Regions from separate parts of the Homo sapiens genome. Here all the other regions are linked to region 3. The links come from fine-mapping of genetic effects on plasma protein levels. A gene starts in region 3. Each other region holds a variant in brackets. All regions are shown on one strand. Distances are between the middles of the regions.

What was found. PIP is the posterior inclusion probability: the model's chance that the variant is causal. The UK Biobank Pharma Proteomics Project read protein levels with antibody pairs (Olink). The fine-mapping took linkage between variants from a reference panel, not from the people measured, so its PIPs are less certain.
Region 1: its variant is fine-mapped to the plasma level of the ST6GAL1 protein (UK Biobank, PIP above 0.99).
Region 2: its variant is fine-mapped to the plasma level of the ST6GAL1 protein (UK Biobank, PIP above 0.99).

The regions. Positions count from the first base shown.
Region 1 is chr3:186,617,585-186,625,765 of GRCh38, reverse strand. AHSG (alpha 2-HS glycoprotein) reads right to left here. Exons shown (of 7, transcript NM_001622.4): 5 at 7,129-7,230; 6 at 5,826-5,909; 7 at 4,448-5,180. The coding sequence ends at 4,836. Among named protein-coding and RNA genes, the nearest start is that of AHSG, 8.6 kb to the right of the region's middle. The variant G/A (reference allele first, on the strand shown) is at 4,991.
Region 2 is chr3:187,018,579-187,026,759 of GRCh38, reverse strand. All of the region lies in intron 2 of ST6GAL1 (ST6 beta-galactoside alpha-2,6-sialyltransferase 1), which reads right to left. Among named protein-coding and RNA genes, the nearest start is that of ST6GAL1, 92 kb to the right of the region's middle. RefSeq lists enhancers at 570-899, 4,509-4,778, a silencer at 2,453-2,542, a cis regulatory region at 4,781-4,874 and a promoter at 4,781-5,358. The variant C/T (reference allele first, on the strand shown) is at 4,871.
Region 3 is chr3:186,925,997-186,934,177 of GRCh38, reverse strand. ST6GAL1 (ST6 beta-galactoside alpha-2,6-sialyltransferase 1) reads right to left here and starts at 3,652. Exons shown (of 8, transcript NM_173216.2): 1 at 3,344-3,652. RefSeq lists enhancers at 1,206-1,265, 1,286-1,335, 3,429-4,037 and silencers at 3,232-3,421, 3,662-3,741.

The DNA.
Region 1 (8,181 bases), 310 kb after region 3:
TTCCTGTATTGAGGGCCTGAGAGTTCATTCATCCCATGGCCTGGTCTTGACCTGAATCATCAAACTACGATCAAGGCAGGCTGCTGCCTACTCATTCCGGACCCTAGCTCCTGAAAGCTTGATATGCCTCAAACAGAACTCTTTTTGTTGTCTGTCCTTTCTCAGCAGTATCATCTCTTTTCGCTTTCTGCTTCCTCTTCCTCGACTTGCTGTACCATCAGATATGCCTCCTTTGCCCAAATCCTTCCACCGTGCCTTCTGAAATTTCCATTCCATAGTGGATAAAAGACTACCTGCCCTACTAATTGAGTCATTTTCTGTGCTCAACTTGAGTCTCACTTTTGCTCAAGCACAACTTCTCCATAACAACTCTGGAATGGATGCTTATTTTTAGTAACATTGGTATCCTCCCCATTTTCCAATGTTACTTCCAGGATATTAGTCCTCTGTGCTCGCATAAAACCCTTTTTCTCGGCCGGGTGTTGTGGCTCACACCAGTAATCCTAGCACTTTGGGAGGCCGAGGTGGGCAGATCACCTGAGGTCGGGAGTTCGAGACCAGCCCAACCAACGTGGAGAAACCCGTCTCTACTAAAAATACAAAATTAGCTGGGCATGGTGGTGCATGCCTGTAATCCCAGCTACTTGGGAGGAGGCAGGAGAATCGCTTGAACCTGGGAGGCAGAGGTTGCGGTGAGCCGAGATCGCACCATTGCACTCCAGCTTGGGCAGCAAGAGCGAAAACAACAAAAACAAAAACAAAACAAAACAAAAGAACGCTTTTTCTTTGAGGACCATGCCACCTAGCTTGCAGACACTTTCCTCTTCCTGTTCCTGCCATCTTCTGACTTACTGGCCTCTCTGTATTGCTAACATCTTTGTCTCCTGGCTTATACTCCTGCCCTCCACCTTCACCTTGTCGTTATTCACATGGATTCATCTTCTGTACAGACAACACCCTTACTTCTTTCTCGCTTGACCAGCTTGATACCAGAGACCAGCATCTAACTCCATGTGAAACTGATCTACTCTTTGACTGCCATTTTTCCCCCCAACTCGATTTCTCCTTATTTCCACTGTTCTAGGCCACCCTGGCAAACTATAGCCAAAGGCCAAATTCAGCTCACTGCTAATTTTGTAATAAAAGTTTTATTGGAATACAGCCATGCCTATTCATTTATATATTGGCTATAGTTGCTTTCTTCCTAAAATAGCAGAGTTGCATTGAAATAGAGACCACATGGTCCATAACACCAAAGATATTTACTATCTGGTCCTTCACTAAAACGTTTTCTAACCCCTATTCTGGACAAACAAAATAAAAATATCTTTCTACGAAAGTAAAACTTGAGCATTATAGAAAGTTTAGGAAATAAGACAAAGCATTAATACAACAAAGAAAAGCAGCTCCCCATTATTCCATAATTCAGATATAACCACTGTTAGTATTTTAGTTTTTCTTCCTGTTACTTGGTAATTTTTTATGTCTGTATGTGTATATTAATATGTCTACATATATAAATTAATTTTAGAAATTCAGGATTATACCACTTTATAACCCACTTTTTTCATTTCAAAATATATTATCAATGTTTTTCTATATGAATTGTTACTTTTTAATAACATTTAATTGTTACTTTTTTATAAACATGATTTTAAATTTCTGCAAAGTAGTCAATGGAGTGAAGATAACATCATTTCACTAGCCAGCCTACTAGTACAGAATTTTTTTTTTTTTTTTTTTGAGATGGAGTTTCGCTCTTGTTGCCCAGGTTGGAGTGCAATGGCACGATCTCAGCTCACCGCAACCACCACGCCCGGCTAACTTTGTATTTTTAGTAGACACGGTGTTTCACCATGTTGATCAAGCTGGTCTCCAACTCCTAACCTCAGGTGATCCACCTGCCTTGGCCTCCCAAAGTGCTAGGATTACAGGCATGAGCCACCGTGCCTGGACAATTTTTGTATTATCTTAACATCCACCAAATATTCTTAATTGGTAGTAGTGACACAAGTATGGAAAAATGCACCTGAAATCCAATAACTTTGAAACATGTGTTAGACATGATTAAAATCCACTAAGAAGGCAAAGAAATGAGACATATGTAATGCTATTAATTTAGGAGAGAACACTCTGTAAAATAATAATGTTAAGAAAGTACCGAGCAGCATTAATACAAAAAATGTGCTATAAGGGTGGTAGATTTAACAGCTCTGTAACTCATTCTCTCTATTATTATTGGGAATAAGTAATTTTAAAATAATGCACATTTTGAATAATGCTGTCTCCAGATATGCATCATTTAGAGGAAACAAGTCACATAGGAAACTGTTTTAGGTAATTCTAGTGAGGAAATCCTGAAGGTATTTGGAAATGCAATGTTAGAATTCAATAAAGAGGTCCAATCTGGAGCTATTAAGTTGCAGTTATCTGGGTAACAATGATAGTTTAAATCATGAGAGAGGATAAACTTGCCAAGCAGAGTACATATTTAAGAGAAGGTCAACAACATAATCTTCTGAGGCCACCAAATTCAGAGGATGAGGAGCAGCAGCAGAAAGGGAGGGCACTTACTGAGAACCTAGAATGTGTCAAGAAGGTGTCATACATAAATTTGTAGCATCTCATTTAATCCTCCCAACACCAGTACATCAGCTGTTATCTATGTCTGGTTGTATAATGTGGGCAGAAAGAAGTGAAAGGTGAAGCAGCTTGGCTCAGGTTTTGCAGGTCTATGTGACTTCACTGCTTCTTTGAGAGACATGAGATCAAGGCATGCATTAGCCAGACACAGAAAAATAGACATAGAAAAATCATCTGCACGAATTTTAAGTTGGAGAGGAGGGAAACTGAGGTAATGCAAATGAAACAAACTAGAATTCACTGCCTCAGTAAATGCCCCCCCCCCACACACACACACACATCTATCCAGTTCACAAAGCCACAAATCCAGGAATCATCATCCTTCACGTCTTTCTCACTCCCATATCAAATTCATCAGCAGGTCTTGGGAGTTCTACCTCCAAATTATAACCTCTTTTTATCATGTCCACTGCCCACCACCTTAGACCAACTCATGTTAATCTTTTCTCTAGAAAGCTCTAGTGACTTTCTATCCTGTGGCTACTCTTGCCCAGCTACAGCCCACTCTCCAGTCTCCCTACAGCAACAACACCAGTAAACTCTTGACAACCAGGATGCCCCTAGAGCAACTGCATCTGCCAGTGGTCACCATGACCTCAGAGTCAGTCGTCCTTACTGCTCTTTCTACAGCATTTAGCACAGCTGCCCATAGCTTCTTCTCTGGCTTCCGTGACACCTAGTGGTTTTCTTACCTTTCTGGCCTTTCCTTTTGGTTACTGGAATATTGGCAAAACCTCTAGGCACAAGTGATAAGGTGAGTGTCAACACTTGATTCATTCTCCTTGGTTTAAAGTGAAGTCACTCAACTGGGTGTCAGTCCTGCCCTCTAAAATTCCATCTGAAAGGGCCCATCACTGAGGTAGATCGGAAAAACTTAATGCTGATGGACAAAAATTGAAATTGCCCAGGGACCATGCTAAAATGGGGAGGGTTTATTCACATATGCTATCTGAGCACTTGGACGGTGTCTACAAATGTCCACGGGATTCACCTGTCCAGGCATCCTTTATCTAATGATACTACAAGTCACAGCTTTAACTTGGGTCCTTAAAATAGATTGGCTAGGAAGACCAATCTTGTGTTATAAAATGAAGTGTATACAGTACACTCAACGTATATCTTAAACATAATTAACAACAGATATAAAGTGAGGATCTTGTTTTAATTACCAATCCCTCCTTACCTCGGTACTGGAGAAAATCAATGGATAGTTTATTCTGTACAAAGTTCAGGAGCTTGGCCCACCTTTAGCAATATTTTCTCTCTCTTATAAAATGAGAAGAATTATTTTCTCATAAAGAAATGGTCATATCTTGGCCAGGTGCGGTGGCTCACGCCTGTAATCCCAGCACTTTGGGAGGCCGAGGTGGGTGGATCATGAGTTGAGGAGATCAAGACCATCCTGGCCAACATGGTGAAACCCTGTCTCCACTAAAATAAAAAAAATTAGCTGGGTGTGGTGGCACGCACCTGTAGTCCCAGCTACTCAGGGGGCTGAGGCAGGGGAATCATTTGAATTTGGGAGGTGGAGCTTGCAGTGAGCCAAGATCATGCCACTGCGCTCCAGCCTGGGTGACAGAGTAAGACTCCGTCTCAGAAAAAAAAAAAAAAAGAAATGGTCACATCTTATGGGTTGTGGAAAGATCCTAGTCTCACTTTTTCCTGTATCTGGCAATACAGCAGGTTTTTGTTCTCTTTTGGTTCTCTTTTCACTTTGATTTTGATTAGGGACACTGTGTTTGTTGGGGTAAAAGGCTATGCATGTGAGGGGAGCTGGGATGAAGTCGCAATAAGCATGACCACATTCAGCTTAGAACCTTCTTTATTAAGGAAGGTCTTTCAGGCACTTTCATTAACAGGCACATATAAGCTTAGCAAGAGCACCTTTCAAAGTCACAGTTCCAATGGTTTTTGTAAGGTCAACCAGAGGCAGAGAACACAATCATGGTGGCTTACCGTCAAAATCATGACAAGTTGTCAACCTAATGCCTTCTGTCAAACATAACCACCACCCACTCTGCTTCTGTCCTGTGAGGAATGACGGGAAGTAGGGAGTCAAGACTTGATATTAATGTAGATCGCATGTGACACTTGCGTGGCCAGCAGACAAGGCCCCCCACCCATGCCCAGGCTTGGACAAAATGGTGGCTATGTTTTCTGTGCCAAACCTCCTCATCTCTGCCATGTCTAGCCTAGACCTTGAAGTGTCTGATCCTCCCCGGACATGGAGGAACCACTGGCCCAGCAGCAGCACCAACACTAGGCTGCACCACTGTGCGTGTTTTCCGGGGGTGCGACACTTCTCCTGAGGGTGACCCCAATGAGACCACACCCATGAAGGTGTGGC[G/A]CAGGTCGTAGTGCGCCCGGTGCAACTGGTGTCCTGGAGGAGCTGCCAGTAACACATGGGAGTCTGGGGGTGAGCCAGCTGGAGGGAGTCCAGGTGCGCCAAGTGGAGGGGACGGAGGTGCATCTGGGTCCACCACGGGTGTGGGGACTGCTTCATTGGCACCTTCTGGTTGGGGCTGTGAGCTCACGGGCTGGAAAAAGGACCATTTCCTTCAGTTAGTTTGCTTCCTCCTCCCAGGCAAGACAACCCACAGGCCCAGGTGGCACTGGCACCCAATTTCCTCACATTATACATTTTTATTTGCAAAGAGTCTAGCAAGAAAGGACCTACCCAAGTACAAGGGATTGTCATCAAGGTTACAAGGAGGGGTGACTGGCCTATGTTGGCCCCGGCCTCACTAGGATTGTCTTTGTGATGGTGGACTTACACGCATATGTCCAATGAGTAAAAGCACCCCACCTATGGCTCACCCTTGCCCAGCAGTGCCACCCTCTTTGTCATCTGAAGCTGCAGCCACTGGGAGCTAACAGGTAGATCTGGCCACCTGGTCTCTGCAACTCAGAAAACCACTCCCACCTCCCACAAATAAAAAGGTGGCTTTGTCAACTACACAGTAAGATGGTTCTTCCCTGTAGTCACTAGTTCGTGGGAGGGAAAGGCATAGCTAAAATATCCTTCCATTTGTTGATGATTCCGCATACCCCAGTGTTATTTCATACTGTGAGATTCAGAAGCACAGGAGAGCAAATGTCCTGTCATCACTACTGCACTGCATAAATGTGAAGGGGTCATTGTATTCTGAAGGTGTAGGCAAGAATATTCACGGAGCTGTTACCTGTGTTTGGAACACCATGCAGGTCACTGCAACCTCTGCCCCACCAAGCTTCTCACTGAGTGTTGCCTTACAAAAGCCATATTGCTGCCCACAGAGAAAGAGGATTTATTTTAACTAATTTCAAAAATGGATCCCCCCCAATTTCATTGACGCGCCAACCTTAAATTAGTTTGAAAAACCATTTTTCTTAAAGTTATAGTTTCTGCTTGTGGGAGGTATATGATTCTATATATAACATGGAAATACAGAAATACTTTGAGAGTGAGAGAGATTACCCATAATCCCTTTCTGGTGGTGGCCTAGAAAGAAGGACTGTTAACATTGATGCATTTCTTTCTTATTTTAAAATACTATTAAATATGATTTAAAAATTGAGATCATTGTGACTATACGATGTTGTATCCTGTGTGTTTTCACTTGCCATAATAGCATTTTCTCATATCATTCATTATTCCTTGAAAACACAATTTTTAGTGTCTGCACAATTTTCTATTTACTGATGTGCATGGATTATTCAATGACACCTTCCTGTTGGACATACAGATCTCTCTTTTTTGGTCTCTTTATATCCATAATAAATCATTTTTATAGATATATTCTGTCAAATGTCACTGATGAATTCTTTTTCTTTTTCTTTTTTTCTTGAGACAGAGTCTCGTTCTGTTGCCCAGGCTGGAGTGCAGTGGCACGATCTTAGTTTACTGCAACATCTGCCTCCTGGGTTCACACCATTCTCCTGCCTCAGCCTCCCGAGTAGCTGGGACTACAGGCGCTCACCACCAAGCCTGGCTAATTTTTTTGTATTTTTAGTAGAGACGGGGTTTCACCATGTTAGCCAGGATGGTCTCGATCTCCTGACCTCCCGATCCACCCGTCTTGGCCTCCCAAAGTGCTGGAATTACAGGCATGAGCCATCATGCCTGGCCACTGATGACTTCTTTAGACTAAAATCCTAGAAGTGTACATTATTGGCTCAAGGACTTGAAAGCTTTTGTATCAGAGTTATATGTCTAGAAAATGTGCACTTCACATTCCCAGTGGGTGGGCGTGACTTGGCTTCATTAGCAAATAGCCTCTCTCTTTCTCCTAACTTCATGTGCTTCCAGTGGGTGAGATGATTTGATGACAGCTCTTAAAGGGATGAGGTGACACCCTAAAAGAAGGCTTGCCGTGATCCACAGGGAGAGGGGATTTGCACTGTTATTCTCTGTCTGCAGCCCCAAGATACAAACTATCCAAGGATGTTCTGTTCCACAAACAGCTCTGTCCGAGTGGTAACACCCCAAGGTCCCGGCCCACTCACCTTTTCTGCCAGCAGGTTACACTTGGCTGCCTCTGTGGCCTCTTTAGCAACACAGTCAGTGCCAGACACTGTAAACTCCACATAGGTAGAAGGTGGGAGGGGCTGAGAAGAGTACATGAAAATGCTCTTGAGGAAAGATGACTTACAATGAAAAGGGCAGAGAAGGAGAGCGGGAAGTAGCCTCCTTCGGGGAGCACCATTCATGCAGACCATGCGTCGGCCCAGAAGACATGTCCCTCAATGGCTTACATAGGGCAGTTGCTATGGGGTTGTGTTCTCAAGTGCTTGTGCTTTAGAGGTAGGGGTTGTGTCTTCCTTGTAGGAGGGGCAAGTATCCATCACCGGTCCTTCAGGGTGGAGGTGAGTTTGCAGATAGGAAACCGGAATCAGAAGGCCAGCATTAGACTGATAGGAGTGGGAACCCTGCCTCCCCCCAGCCCTCACTCTTGGGCTGCACTTGATACCCAAGGTTCAGGTTATTCCAAAATAGGGTGGGAAAGTGAAGAGATTAATACCTCTTCCACCTGTTTCATAGAGCAGGCTCAAATGAAAAGATTTAGATGAAAGTATGGAAGATATCACTTGAGCTTTTCTTTTTTAAAGTAGTTGGAGCATATGGACACAATAAAATATCTGTTATTTGGTGTAGTCTGGGGTGGGGATGTTCTGAGAATCACATATTCTGATTAATAGAATTGCCGTCTATACTAGCGTATTTCCAAGTATGGCCATGGCTGATATCCAGAATACATTTTCTTAAACATTTGAATTCTGTTGAATTCCAATGTGCTAAACCACCCACAGTACAATGAGATGTTTTCTCCAGTGACTCGAAAGGCATTTTAAGATCTTGCCATTATAAGCTTGTCAGCACAAGTGAGTATTAATTACGAGTCTGTGGCAGATGTTCAGCGGAGATGGGTGGTACTGGAGCCCAGCAAATTTACAGTGAGTGCTTCTGGCCGACGTGGGCAACTCTACCAGCTGACACTGAGCTTTGGTTTTAGCTGGAACGGAGGGAGTGGGGATGTACCTGCCGGCAGCTGTGGCTGC
Region 2 (8,181 bases), 93 kb before region 3:
TTTTATTGTATTTTACGTAACTACTGATGTGAGAGGAATTGGGAAAAAAAATTTGGTTCTTCACCACCAATAGTTTGAGAAGCCTTGGCTTTGGAGAAACAGTTCACTCAGGCTCTAGTCTCAAAAAGCTAGATTGAAATCCTGGCTTTTGTACTGTAAGTTATCTTAGGCCAATTAGTCAGTTTCTGTGAACCTTGTGTCTTCATCTGCGAAGGATAACAATACTTAAAAGGTTGCCTCTGCAGGGCTGTGCTGACAATTTAATGATAGATTTTTATCACTTTATTTTAGCTAATAATTAATGAGCTTTTACTATGTGCTAAGTAATTTACAGGCAGTAAAGGTCCTGTAATTTGGTGAAGCTCATTTAATTCCTGCAGCAACAACAGTGCCCAAGGCGAGCACTGTTATCACCATGTGCTTCACAGAGTCCCCAGAGGAGCCTGCCCAGGCTGTCTGGCTCTACCACCCCAGCTCCTACCCACCGAGCTCTATCAAGCGGGAACCAACATGGGTCAAAACATTAATCATTTGTCAAAACATTTCTGACAAGTCACCGTTTTGCTCAAAAGCGCAGCAAAGGTCAGAAGCATGATATGCAACAAGAAACCGACTTGTAGCTGGTGAATCTGAGAAGACAGTGAAAGAAAGGAAGCCATGAGGGGCGCGCAGTGCCTGAGAGGCTGTGACTGTTGGCAAGTGTTTACCTGAGGACAGGCCCACCTGCATGGCTCATGGTGGGGAGGGGGAGATCCTGCCCAGAGCAAAGCCCTGAAGATAAAGGGCTTTCACTCCTGCCAAGGGTCTCTTACCAGAGATTACATCTTTTCCCAGCCAGGCAGCACTGATAATGAAGTCCTCAGAACATTTCCCTGAGTACATTTCCCCAGAGGTTTTCTAAGAGTCTGGAGAACAGAACTTTGTTGGGGGGTGTTGTGTCCCCACCATGAGGTCAGGCTGCGGTCCCTGACCAGAGCCAACCACTCGGAACTGATTAGGAGAGCTCTGAACTCCAGATTGACACAGCCATGGCAAAGGGAAATCATGAGCCATTTGCTACTGTCTTCACCCTTGCACCCCATGCACAGACAGACAGACTTGTATTCATAGAAATATCTGCCTTCCTATTTGACAGGTGCCTGGCAAAAAGTAGGCCTTTCGTGCCCCATGAATTCCCTTTCTGTATAATGCCCACTCCCCACTACACACCCCAGCCCCAGGAGGCATCTCCCACATGCTCACCACACAATTTGCACTCCGCTTGGTAAATCAGCATTAAGCAGAGGAGAGCGCAGGAAGGGCCTATATAGAGAGTGGAAAAAACACTTCACCCCTCCCCAGCAACACAGCTACCCACTCTTTCCTCCACATCCCTACACTACACCACACCCCTATGCTACAGAGAGCCAGACAAAGAAGAAAACGGGCCCGCCATCTCCTCAGAAAGAGGAACTGTCTCACCTCCTAATCTTTACTACACTGCTTCGATTTTTCTTGGAGTAATTTAAAGCAAACGCCAGACTTTGTATCAGTTTCCTGCTACCAGCTCTTCCCAACTGCGGATCCAACAAAAAATTAAGCCTTAATGTCCTAAGACCTCCATTGTATGCAACGCATCAACTAACTCCCATGGCATCGAGAATTACCTACGTACCACCCCTGGCAGAATCGTACCACCCCTGGGAGAATTGAGAACGTAGACCCTCAGATTCTCTACACTGTGAGACACACACACACAGACACACACACACACACACACACACACACACACGCACCAGGTTCTGCCAGAGAATATATGAATATAAATAATAATTCAATATGATCACAATGCCAATATCACCCAATATCCAACCCACCTTTAAATGTTTACCAATTCTCTCAATAATGTCTTTTACACTAACCTGCTCAAAAGGGGATCCAAACAAGGACAGGACATTTTGTTTGGATGACTGGATGATGTGCCATTTTCAATTCTCTCTTATCTAGAAGAGTTCCTCGCTCCCTTACTTCTTCTTTTCCACGGCATATATTTGTTGAAAAAATGAAGTCATTTCTCCTGTGGAGTGGCTTATGTTCTGAGCCTGGCTCACGGCTTCCTCAGGGTGTTGTTTAATGTTCTCCTCTCTGCTCTGTGTTTCCTTAAACTGAGTGTTAGATTTCAAGGCTTGTTGAGATTTGGTGGTTTCAAATTCAATGGTTCTCCCAGGCTTTTTTTGTTAAAATATATACACATATACTCTCTCTCTCTCTCTCTCTCTCTCTCTCTATATATATATATATATATACACATATATATGTGTATATATGTGTGTGTGTATATATATATAGAGTATATGTGTGTGTGTATATATATATATAAAACATTTAGGCTGGGCGCGGTGGCTCATGCCTGTAATCCCAGCACTTTGGGAGGCCGAGGCGGGCAGATCACGAGGTCAGGAGATCAAGACCATCTGGCTAACATGGTGAAACCCCCGTCTCTACTAAAAATACAAAAAATTAGCCAGGCGTGGAGGCATGCACCTGTAGTCCCAGCTACTCAGGAGGCTGAGGCAGGAGAATCACTTGAACCTGGAGGCGGAGATTGCAGTGAGCAGAGATCATGCCACTGTACTCCATCCTGGGTGACACAGCGAGACTTTGTCTCAAAAAACAAACAAACAAGCAAAACATGTATATATGTATATATATAAAACATATATATGTATATATATACCCAAAAGGATCTAAGTCCTGGTAGTCTAAGGGAGTTGGAGGTGAGGAAATGAATAGGGAAGGTTGAGTTCTTCTACTTTGTGGTGGCCCCGGGGCCTGTAAGAAAACTTACACCAATACTCATGCGATAGGTTCATTCTTTTTTTTTTTTTTAATTATTATTATACTTTAAGTTTTAGGGTACATGTGCACAACGTGCAGGTTTGTTACATATGTATACATGTGCCATGTTGGTGTGCTGCACCCATTAACTCATCATTTAGCATTAGGTATATCTCCTAATGCTATCCCTCCCCGTTCCCCCCACCCCACAACAGTCCCGGTGTGTGATGTTCCCCTTCCTGTGTCCATGTGTTCTCACTGTTCAATTCCCACCTATGAGTGAGAACATGTGGTGTTTGGCTTTTTGTCCTTGCCATAGTTTGCTGAGAATGATAGTTTCCAGCTTCATCCATGTCCCTACAAAGGACGTGAACTCATCATTTTTCATGGCTGCATAGTATTCCATGGTGTATATGTGCACATTTTCCTAATCCAGTCTATCATTGTTGGACATTTGGGTTGGTTCCAAGCTATAGGTTCATTCTTTCAGCAAATGCTGATTGCCTACTGTGAACCAGACTGCAGACACAGCAGTAGAGAAGCCAGCCAGAAATCCCTAACCCCTCCAGCACTCACCTTATAGTGAGGATAAATAAAGAGTCAAACAACATAAATCCGTGGTGCTTTGCAAGGAGATAACTGATATGCAGACAATTAGAGTAGGGAAGAGAAATAGGGACAGCTTGGAGTGGGTGAGGTGGAGATTTAAATCAGATGATCAGAGAAAGCCTCACTGAGAAGAAGACATTTGAGCAAGGGTTGGAAGGAGGTGTAAACCAAAAATAAAATCCTAAGCCCCCCACTAACCAACTGAATGGACTCCTTTTTGGCCATGGGCACCCCAGAGAAACCTGAAAAACTGAATTCCCAGCCATGACAGAAAGGAGGTTACACCCTCATCATACCCCTCCCTTTTGGGGTTTAGGTACAAGTGACCAGCATTAAGGTAAAATAGAGATTATAAGACTGACCAAACAGACCCTTTATGACAATAAGATACCAAACTATACACAATACCTAAGGCCATAAAAGGCAAAGATTAAGTCATACCCTAGAAACAATACAGTCTCATTAAATGGGTTTTTTAATTAACCCAGTAAAATGTGGCTTACTCTCCAACCTGACTCTGGTATAGTATCACATGACAGACAGCAGACTCTGAAGGAAATTAAAATATTTTGCCCCAAAATACATTTCTTTGACATATTTGGAAAAGGCTGCCAGACAGCCTTTGGACTGCAAAGCCATCTTTGGTGGGGGAAACGTGCATCTCCAGAGAATCGATATTAATGTCTCTTCCCTTGCTAGGCCTTTCCCAGATCTAGGAGAGATTCTAACTGAGAGTCAGACACCCAAAGGTCTGAGAAGAGACAATCACTATCTATTCACCCAGAGGGCTGCTATCTATGAGGCTCCAAGGACCTAGGCCCCCACAACCTCCTTATCTTACTCAGGCATTCCTTCCTACTGACTTCAAGTCACTAGACAATAACTTGACTCTCTCAGCTACTGTTAGCTAAAGAATCCCTAAAACGCACTTAAGACTTGTAAGGCCCCTCAGCCCTCCCCTAACCCTCTACCCCCCAAGTCCCTGTGTAGGGAAAACTCTCTGTAGCCATCTTTCCTCTGCTCTCACACCACAACAATCAACACAGAAGATGACTTATGTGACCATATGTGTGGGGGTCCCACCCCAACACCAAGCAGCGACACCAGCTTGGTGTCCTCTAATTCAGTTCCAACACTATCTACCTGGAAATAGTGTCAGATCCTACAGATTGAGGGCTTAGTGTCCAAGACATCCCCCCTCCACCAGTCACAAGTCCAGGCCTCCAGAACTTCTTTCTGACCAACCAGCTTCCATTGGGGTTCCCCTCTCCGTGGGTTCAATTAATTTGCTGGAGCGGCTCACAGAACTCAGGGAAACACCCTACTTACATTTACTGGTTTATCATCAAGGATGCTGCAGAGGATACAGATGAAGAGATGTGTAGAGCAAGGTATGGGAGAAGGGATGCAGAGCTTCCACGCCCTCCCTGGTTGTGCCGCCCTA[C/T]AGGAACCTCCTCCTATTAAGCTATCAGAAAGTTCACCCAACCCTGTCCTCTTGGGTTTTTATAGAAGCTTCCTTGACGTCAGCATTTCTTCCCCCAGGGCATAGGGTAGGAACCTCTCATGGGAAGGTTTTTTTTTTTTTTTTTTTTTGAGACAGAGTCTCGCTCTGTCGCCCAGGTTGGAGTGCAGTAGCATGATCTTGATTCACTGCAACCTCTGCCTCCCGGGTTCAAGCAATTCTTCCTGCCTCAGCCTCCCGAGTAGCTGGGATTACAGGCGCCCACCATCACACCCGGCTAATTTTTCTATTTTTAGTAGAGACGGGGTTTCACCATGTTGGTCAGGCTGGTCTCGAACTCCTGACTTCAGGTGATCCACCCACCTCGGCCTCCCAAAGTGCTGGGATTACAGGCATGAACCACTATGCCTGGCCTCATGGGAGGGTTGTAAGGCCCACAGTCAGGCCAGAAAACATAAAAACCTTGCCTTGGGGCAGGTGAAAGGACGGCAGGAGAGAGACTGTTTCTTAGGGCCTGTCCCTGAAGTCTAAAAAGCCCAGCATTCTAGCAAGACTGTAGCAAGGGCTATGGGGCTATGCGCCAGGAAACATGCATGGAAACCAACACATAGTCCAGGCATGATGGCTCACGCCTGTATTCCCAGCACTTTGGGAGGCCAAGGCAGGTGGATCACGAGGTCAGGAGATCGAGACCATCCTGGCCAACATGGTGAAATCCCATCTCTACTAAAAATACAAAAATTAGCCGGGCGTGGTGGCATGCTCCTGTAATCCCAGCTACTCAGGAGGCTGAGGCAGGAGAATCACTTGAACCCAGGAGGCAGAGGCTCAGTGGGCAGAGATCACGCCATTGCACTCCAGCCTGGGTGACAGAGCGAGACTCCATCTCAAAAAAAAACAAAAAAAAAAACCACCAATACATATATCCTAACACCGCACCCTCCCCCACTTTGAGATGTCTCACATTTTTTGGACAGAACTACCAGTTACCTTCCATGTACTGATTTCCAGATATCCTTGCCTGTAATGCCTGTCTCCCTAAAATGTATAAAACCAGACTATGGCCCAACTGCCTCAGGGCCACTCACTCAAGGCTTCTTGGGTTTGTGTTTTCTCTAAGCTACAGTAACTCATATTGCCTCAGGATAAACTTCTTGAAAATATTTTACAGAATTTGGTTTTTCTGTTAACAGAGATGAAGGAGGCTACCATGCAGATTTCTGAGAAAAGAGGGTTGCAAGTAGAGGGAACAGCAAAATACCTACACAGGGGCAGCCAGATAATGTGGCGCCTTACACAGGTGTAGGGGTTTTGGCTTTCATCTGATTAAGACTTTGCCGATGTATGTTTCAAAGGCATCACCGGATGCTGCCTTAAGAATCAACTGTAATGAACAGCAGGTCTTATAGATGTTACCAAATTTAATTCTTACCACCACCCTGTGGGGTGGGGTATTAACAATCCTCTTTTTTAAATAAAGAAATTGAAACTCAGAGAGTTTAAGTCATTTGCTCAAGATGTCACTGTAAATGGTGAAACCACGGTGTGTTTTGTTTTTTGTTTGTTTGTTTGTTTTTGAGACAGAGTCTCGCTCTGTTACCAGGCTGGAGTGAAGCAGTGCAATCTCGGCTCACTGCAACCTCCACCTCCCAGGTTCAAGCAATTCTCTGCCTCAGCCTCCCGAGTAGCTGGGATTACAGGCACCCGCCACCACGCCCGGCTAATTTTTGTATTTTTAGTAGAGACGTGGTTTCACCATCTTGGCCAGGCTGGTCTTGAATTCCTGACCTCGTGATCCACCCGCCTCAGCCTGTCAAAGTGCTGGGATTACAGGCATAAGCCACCATGCCCGGCTGACCAGATTATTCTAACCAACAAACTGGTAGTGCTCTTCATCCTATGTCCCTCTACTCAGGCCCTTCCAAGGGCTACTGCGAGCCTCTCTGCTTTATCACACCAACTACAGTTGCTAATCACTGTATTGACCTTCTGGTGACACCTATTTACTCTGCCCTGATCTTCATCTCCTTAATCTTTAGTGCACAAACCTCACCCTCATCTGGACCTTAGAACCCAAACTTTCTGTTCTTAGACTTAGAGTGCTTGACACCCTGTTGCCCCCAGAGGGTGGCATAGTGCCTCCGAGAGGGGCTCCATGTGTCCTGGCTGCCAGAAACCCTCTCCCATGAAGGACTCCCATTTCTCTAAGAGCTTGGATTCTTAATGTGTGCCACCTGAGCTGCCACTTAATGCTGACCCTTCTTTCTCTTTCCTCATATCAGGGATAGCTGGCTGCCCCACAAGAAGTTTGCTCCTTCTGCCATATAGTTATTGCTGTAAATTACTGTCCAGAGAGGGATTGCATTTTACACACACACAAACACACACAGCATATAGATGGGATCATTTTACTAGTTATTGGCAAAGAAATGTGAGCAAAAATAACATACATCACTTCTGGGCCAAGATGGTTAAGACGTGAGTTTATTTGCTCTAGCAGCTAGCATTACCCTATAGAGCTACTCAATAGAGACTTCCTGAATATTTATTTCTATGGTTTAAAACCATCAACAGAATATTCAGCTATAGATTTTTCATATCTCCTCATCCCAACATTTCACAATCCCAGTGAAACAACAGAAGCACACCCTAATTTAATCAAAGCCAAGAGGTCCTAAATTCTTTCACATCAAATCATATCTCTTGTATTTTGTTTCCCCCGACACGATTCCAAGATTTTGAAAGATGTTGTCGACTAACTTTAATTTAAAATTTGAGTTATTTGTTATCAAATGAACAAAGATACTGTTGCCAATCAGAGGTTCTGAATGGCATGAGATTGCCACGACTACCACAGTCAGTTGATAAAAGTTTAGCATAAAACAAAGAAACTTGATTTTCTTGGCTGCGCAGGTTTGCCGTGGTGAACGTGCTTCTCCCATCTGGCTTTTCGAGATACTCAAGTGTCTGGTGGATCTCTGGAGGCCCTGGACAAGGGACTCTGGTTTGTGGAGCTTACTCCAATAATCGTAACTTTGTGATTACAGCCATAGACACAATTCTTGCTTAGCATGCCCCTGTGATGGCTAATACGGAGTGTCAACTTGATTGGATTGAAGGATGCAAAGTATTGATCCTGGGCGTGTCTGTGAGGGTGTTGCCAAAGGAGATTAACATTTGAGTCAGTGGGCTGGGGAAGGCAGACCCACCCTTAATCTGGGTGGGCACCATCTAATCTGCTGCCATTGTAGCCAGAATAAAAAGCAGGCAGAAGAATGTGAATAGACTAGACT
Region 3 (8,181 bases):
TCCGCTGGAACAGCCTGTGCAGAGACTGGGCAAGGAGAACCCTCACTGTACAAAGAAGGAAACTGGAGCCCAAGAGGTTAAGTAGCATGAACAGCTAAGTGGCGCCTCTCTCTTCTGTCTTCTCACTGCCTCTTGCCTTATGATTTCATACAAAGCAGCCCCTAAATGGGGAAGCACAAGACAGAGACATGGAGGAACCCAGCACAAGAGTAAAGTGAACCGTTCAGCAAACACTAAAGAAAGCTGATCCCCAGAGATAATTGCACTATTCAGCATACCTACTACTGGGATCCCTGGCTTTGCTTAATAACCAAACCTATTTAAATCCATAAGGAATTGGTTCTCTGACTTAAAGGGTGTTGTTATAACAACCATAACTTTGGCTTTTCTCTGGAGTACCAACAACTACTGGTTTGATGCAACCATTTCCCTTTTACGCAAAAAGGTGCACTAAAAGTAGACCACGCATTGTTGTGTATCATTAGGCAAGCAATTTCTCTTCTCTAGGCCTCACTTTTCCCATCTGGAAAGTAAAAGGGTCCAGTCACATGATTTCTGAAGTTCCTTACAGGGTCAGCGTCCTGGTGAGAAAACTATACTGCAGTGCCAAGAGGAATTGATGTAGGATTTTTCTTCTTGGTCCTCGGGCCAGCAATGCCCCACCTGTGCTCGCTCGGCCATGCAGGTGTGTCCCAGCTCACTGTATTATAGCTTGTACCCGCGTTCGGTGGTTCCGAGCTCGTGCACCACACCAAAGGATAATGAGGATACACTGGACATTGAAGGGAGAGGAAGGCAGATAAGAATTTTATTGAGTGTTGAAAACAGCTTTCAGCAGAGAGGGGACACCGGGTTGGTCCCCTACCTGAAGACGGAAAAGTTCCCCAATGTGGCTGGGTCAGGGGCCTTTTATGGACTCAGAATAGGGAGTGCATGCTGACCGGTTTGTGAGTATGCAAAAAAGATGAAAGCAAAGACACCACTCAAAGGTGGGCACGGCAGCGTAGAAAACCAATTAGGAAAAAGTGGGTATATGTAAAACAGGCGAAATGTAGGAATCAATTAGGGGAAAGCACGCCAAACAAGTTCTCACTCTGGTCTGAGGATTTAACTCGTAGCTTGGCTTTCAGGCTTTAAACTGTCTTTGGCCTGGAGGTGGGGGTTTCACCGGGTACCTGACCCTATCTGCCTAGGCATCCAGCTGCCTCCTGTTGCTACCAGAATCACATTGAAAGTGAAACACGCTGGAAACTCTAAGGAAAAGAAACAAGTGTAACTAGGAGATAACAGGCACAGTGCAAAACAACATGTTAACTTTGGGGAAATCCGGCTTCTCAGTGTTTTTTTGGTTTTCCTACTTCTCTGCCAAATACAAAAATAAGCAGCTACTTCCATGGGACTCTCGTTAAAAAAAAAGTAACTTTAATAAGATCAGTGAAAACAATGCTTTGTTCTCCCACAAGTGGCTCAGGAGTAGCTTGCTAAGACACACTTTCTTCCCCGTGGGGCTGATGTCAACAGCCCATGCTTTTGCCCAAACAAAGGCCTCCTGGCACAAGGATGAGAGGCAAAACATCTGAGTCTCCGTAGCTGGCCTTATTCCAATTTGAGGGGAAGGGGCAGCCAGGAGAGAAAAATAACTAAGCTTTTGAAAGGCTTGAAGGAGAGTAAGGAATTACTAAATCTATTTTTTCTCAACAGAATAAAGAATTCTTGAAAGGGATAATGGAAGGGTGCAGCTTTCTATTTGAATTACTCTTTGTTTCACCCTATTCTGCCTAAGGCCACTGCCTTTTAGGCCAATCACAGAATCCCGGTTTTGCCTTTAGTTGCCCGCTGAGCGATGCAGTGGGAGTTGGGAGACCCACACTCAAGTGTTCTCTCTGTGGCCCGTTTCACCCGGTTTAAACTTGGACAAGTGGCTGAACTCTCCGGCCTCAGCTTCCTGCCTGTAAAATGAGAAGGCTCCCTAGATGCTCTCTAGACCTTTTCAATAACAGCGGAATAGGATTGGAGGCTCTCCAGTTCCCCCCCCGGGGACAGGTTAATCTTCAGCCACACTAGCCAAGGTGAGGCAGCAGCCCGCCCGCTCAGCAGGCACACACTGGGGCGGCGGCGCCTCCATTCCTGCTCACACTGCACGCCCACAACCTGCACCAACACCATCGCCTCAGAGACCAATTCACCGCGAAACCATCTCCCCGCTGCAGATCGTGTCCGATTAACATCTGCAAAGCTGAGCTGAGCATATGTAAGCAAAGAAAAAGCAAAACAAACAAGAGTTCTCTTTTTCCGGACCTCGGAATTTCTTTCAAATAAACTCAGAACTGAAAATTGTACGTCCCCAGCTAGAATACGAGGTCTCGGCTGGCCTTGCTTGCGAAAATGCATTAACAAGCCAAAAGGGGCTAGTGACATCTGGGGTGTCTGGGCACACGGACACGGGCCTCAGAGGCAAAGAGCAAGACCGCACTGGGCGACTCGTACATTCTTCCCGCAGGCTGAGGAGGCGACCAAAATATCCCCACAGAGGCAATCGCCGGAGTGCGGGGACAATAGTGCACCCAGCACTCTCTTTTTTTGAGGGGCACCCTTAGACCCTTAACCCAACCCACATCTCTAAGAGACCTCCAGGAGGTGAAGGTGAGGGGTGGTCCACTTCACCCAAAAGAATGCGCCACGGCCGGGGACCGACTCAGCCTGGAGTAACCTTTTTGTAGCTGCTTTCTTGTTTTGGTTTCCCTTTTTAAGTCTGGCAGTTTAGTCTGATGCCCAAGCGGTACCTTTTAAATGTCTCTCTCGCCCTCTTCCAGCAAGTGGCGCCTCTAGAGCCACTCCCTCCCCCGAGGCTGAGACAATGGCCCGGCACCGCAGGGCGGCCCCTAAGGGTATGCAGTGCGTCCAGCTCTCCGGGCAGGGCGCACGTGCGTTTGTTATGGTGCCTGTGCCCCCTCCGCTGCCGCGGGCCTCAATTTGTCGATCCGTAAACCCAGACTCTGCAAGGCGCAATGCCCCCACGCCACCCCACCCCATACTGACGGTGCCGTGGAGAAATCCGTGTTCCCCGGGGCTGTGCGCACGTGGGTTTGTTGTGGATCCGCAGGCTCGCGGAGCCAGAGAGAAGCCAGGGTGGCCCTTTGGCCCTGACAAAAATGCACACACCCCCAACCAAAAGGCGGCCAGCCCCGGAGCCAAGGCAGCTGAGGCGGAGCTGGAGAGAGATTCCCTGCGCCCTACGCGCGCCGCGGGCCCCGCGCCTCCGCTATCCTCCCGCGCCCCTTTGCATCACACTCCTCCCGGGATAGCCCGGGCCGCGCCGCCGCCCACCGCACCCCCTACTCACTCGCTGCACTCTCGGCCGCGGAGGCTGCGGTTGCTCAGCACGCTCGGTGGCGGCCGCCCGCTCCGCGCCCACGCCGGTCGGTATCGGCTCCCTTTGTTAACGCCGGGCAGTGCCCCAGGCGTCTTCCCCAGCCCGGCCCTGCCCAGGACTCCCCTCCCCCAGGTGACTCCAGAAAACGCGCTCGGCAAGGGCAGGATCGCCCGGGAGCTGGGGACCCCACTAGGGAGTCTCGAAAGAGGGGTCCGCTGGGGAAGAACGGGGGACAGAAGACGCACAGTGGAAGGGACTGGAGAAGGAAGGAAGAAGAGCGCGGCGGAGGGGCGGGAAGGAAGCGAGTCGCCTCCGTATGCAAATAGAGTTGCGAAGACTGGGTCGGTCTCCGCCCCCACTCCACCTCTCGCCACCGGCCACACCGCGCCCCAAACCGGCCTGGAGGTCGCTAGCGAGCGGGCTTGGGGTTAAAGACTCTTGATGAAGGCACTGGGTGATGCTAGAATCCTGCCTGCTCTCAAGGAGGGTGGATCGAGGGCCGAGTGGGAGGGGCCACGCGGCTGCGCAAGGACCCCTAAATGCCTCTTCCCCGCTTGGCCGCGAGGGGTCAATCCAGCAGTGTCCGGCTTTTGGTCCTAACATGCGGGTGCTGTACACCCGGTCTCTGCTACCGGCTGACTGCGAGACCCTGAGGAAGTCGCTTAACCTCTCCGAAGACTCGTGTTGCTCTTATCTAGAATAGGAAAGAACAAAATCTTTCACTGCGTTTGGCATTAACCTCCTAACATTGAGGCATGACTCCTACTGGGCGCTCTCAAATGGCAAATACAGAAGGAGAGGAGCGTCCTCGAACCCCTGCACCCAGAGGCTTCCACCCCAAGCTGCAGGCTGAAAGACTGAAGCCTCAGCCTGGATGGTGAAGGGAGCGAGGTTCTTTCTTTTCACCCGGACGACGGTGGGGCTGCTGGGGAAGGAAAGAGGATTAACCAAGCTGCGTACTGACCATCCCCGATAGCCCCAAGGCGATTTCCCTAAGAAAGAAAAACTGCCCAACAGGAGGGCGGAAGGGGCCTTTAAGGCCTCCAGTCCAGCCTCCCATAGCCCAAAGAGAGGATGTGACTACCAGAGGCAATAGTCATATCCCAGTTGTCTACTGAGTGCACACTAGGCACCAGGCTGTGTGCTGGGTGGGAAAGGGGAAAGGAAGGAGATACTGGAAGGTTTGGGGGTCCTCTGGGAACACAAAGTCCAGTGCACACTTAAAGTGCCTGAAGCCCAGGCCCAGAGTTCTGTCTCCAAATGAGGTGCCTACCCCACATCACCAACCTTGGAAAGGGAAGTTACATCCGCACCCTGTCCCCAGCACCCTTCTTCCAAACACTGCTTCCTCCCTGTCCTGATCCTGGCTCCCTTCTGCTGATACTGTCATTCCCTTCCCTGCTGCCCCTGAGGCATTTTTGCTCAGTACAAAGAGCTCCAATTGAAGGGAGTGCCAGCCAGAGTGAATTCAAATCTTTATGACCAACTCGCTGTGCCTTCTTGGGTGAGTTCCACATCCTGTGAGCCTCCCTTTCCTCTTCTGCAAAATGGAGATATTAAGGAAAGCGTTGTTTTCAGGATCCTGTGAAATGACCTACGTGAAACACGTAGCTTAGTGTTTGGCATATAGAAGGTGCTCCTGACAGTAAAATGTATGTATGCGTGAATGAATAGAAGCAGCCAAGTTCAGAAGACTATTTCTGGAAGGATGCTACATTGAAGATTTTAGGCCCTATTCGAAAAAGGGAAAAAAAAAAAGGAGGCTATTAAAAGATTCTGTGCAGTAGCATGACATGCATCTTTGTATTTTACAAGGATTCCTCTGGCACCACACTGGAAAATAGATGGCAGAAGCAGAGAATGCAAGAGACTAGATTGGAAGCTGACATCAATGGAGATATAATAAGAGCCTGAACTGTGTCAGTGACTGTAACAAGACAGAAGAAAAGGACATCTAAATAATAGCTACCATTTGGAGATCTGACATGGTTTGGCTCTGTGTCCCCACCCAAAAATCTCATCTTGAATTGTAATCCACATGTGTCAGGGGAGGGACCTCCTGGGAGGTGATTGGATCGTGGGGGGCGGTTTCCCCCATGATGTTTTTGTGATAGGGAGCTCTCACGGGATCTGGTTGTTTGATAAGTGTCTGGCATTTCCCCTGCATTCTCTCTCTCACCTGCCGCCATGTAAGATGTGCCCTGCTTCCCCTTCACCTTCCACCATGATTATAAGTTTCCTGAGGCCTCCCCAGCCATATGGAACTGTGAGTCAATTAAACCTCTTTTGTTTATAAATTACCCAGTCTCAGGTAATTTATAATTTTCTCAGTAGTGTGACAATGGACTAATACAGGATTCAAAGCACCTTATTTATTACATTGTCTCTCCTTTTCATCAGATAAGTAATGGTCTTAGTCCTATTTTATGGATTAGGAAACTGAAGTCATCTAGGAAGTGAAGAGAGAATTTGACACATTCTTCCACTTTCTTTGAAAGCTTTAATCATCTCCTTCATCATCACCCATATGTCAACATTACTTAAGAACTAAGAACAGCCTGGTGCGGTGGTTCACGCCTGTAATCCCAGCACTTTGGGAGGCCTAGGCGGGCGGATCATGAGGTCAGGAGACCAAGACCATCTTGGCTAGCACAGTGGAACCTTGTCTCTACTAAAAACACAAAACAAATTAACCGGGGCTGGGCGTGGTGGCTCACGCCTGTAATCCCAGCACCTTGGGAGGCCGAGGCGGGCGGATCACAGGTCAGGAGATCAAGACCATCCTGGCTAACATGGTGAAACTCCATCTCTACTAAAAATACAAAAACAAAATTAGGCGGGCACGCGATGACGGGCGCCTGTAGTCCCAGCCACTCAGGAGGCTGAGGCCGGAGAATGGTGTGAACCCAGGAGGCGGAGCTTACAGTGAGCCGAGATCACGCCACTGCACTCCACAAAAGCAGAAGGCGCTCTTTCAGAGGTTGTCCAGTCCCCACTCCGCAGTTCTCTTTTGCAGAGAACTGGAAAACCAAATTAAGGAGAAAACAAGGGAAAAGGTTATCTCAACACTGAGATAAGCACAGATGATATGACACGTGCAAAAATTTCCTGGGCGTCTGAGACAGATGAGTGGGCAAGCAAGGGTGCTCCTGGTAAAATTCCAGGATGGGGGCCATTGTGGAGCAGCCTCCACCAAGGTTCTCTCTTATCACTTAGGACCCTCTGACCTATAAGTGAGAGGCAGAGGCTGGGGCATTACTTTGGAGATGATCCTGTCCTCCCAGTCTATACATGTGAGGCTTCTCCTCCCATTTTCTCTGGGGTCCCTGCCTTGACAGGTTGGTTTTGGTTTTTTTGAGAAGTACAGATACCCACTTTCCCTCTGGACAGTATCTCAGTTCTGGGCCCTCCACCCACAGCTTCCTGCTATGGTCTGCATGTTGTATCCCCCCAAAATTCGTACAATGAATTCCTAACCCCCAAGATGATGGTATTTGGAGGTGGGGCATCTGGAGGAGGTGATTAGGTTATGAGGGCAGAGCCCTCACAAATGGAACTAGCGCCCTTATAAAAGAGACCCGGACCAGGCATGGTGGCTCACACCTGTAATCCCAGCATTTTGGGAGATTGAGACGGGCAGATCACCTGAGGTCGGGAGTTCGAGACTAGCCTGGTCAACATGGTGAAACTTCATCTCTACTAAAAATACAAAAAATTAGTTGGGCGTGGTGGCAGTCACCTGTAGTCCCAGGTACTCGGGAGGCTGAGGCAGGAGAATTGCTTGAACCCGGAAGGCAGAGGTTGCAGTGAGCCAAGATCACGCCACTGCACTCCAGCCTGGGCAAACAGAGCAAGACTCTCTCTCAAAAATAAGTAAATAAATAAATAAATATTAAAAAGTAAAATAAAAGAGACTCCAGAGAGCTAGCTAGCCCCTTCCAACATGTGAGGCTGCAGCTAGAAGGTACCACTTATGACCAGGAGACTGAGCCTTCTCTGAACACCAAGTCTGCCATTATTTTAATGTTGGACTTACCAGCCTCTAAAACCATAAGCAATAAACTCCTGTTGTTTACAAGCCACCCGATTTATGGTGTTTTTGTTATAGCAGCCCAAACAGACTAACACATTCCCCATCCCTCCCCCAACCCTTGACCTCAACCTTAGCCAATATATAATATTTTTAGGTAATGCATTGCTCAGTCATCATTTCAGACATCTTACGGATTAATACACATAATTTTCATTTACAACAATCCACTTGCAAATAATATGTTCATAACACTCTTGAATTGGAGGTGATGTTTCATGAGGGGAAAAAAAAAAGACAATAAGCAGTTGAAAATTTCCTCCCAAATCTTTCTTCCCCACCCACTACAGATGTTCATCAAGTTCCTTAAATAAACCTCACAGCTCTCCTCTTCATATCACGTCTCCTCTTCAGTACATGTTGTCTAATATGAGGATAGGTTCGGGGCCTAAAAGAACTGTGGTTTGCCTGTGCCCACCATGTTGGCTTTCAGTGCTGCCAGCCTTATGGATGATTTTATATATATATATATATATATATATATATATATATATATATATATATATATATATGTTCACAGCTAGTCTACTAAGTCTGTAGAACTCAAGTTTAAAAGTAGAAAGAAAATAGCAGCATGCTCAGCCCCCTTGCCGTGTGATGCCCTGTGCCACTATAGAACTCTGCAGACTCCCCACTTGCATGAAAGCTCTCACCAGATACAGTCCATTGACCTTGGACTCCTCAGCCTCCATAACTATAAGAAATGACTTCCTTTTCT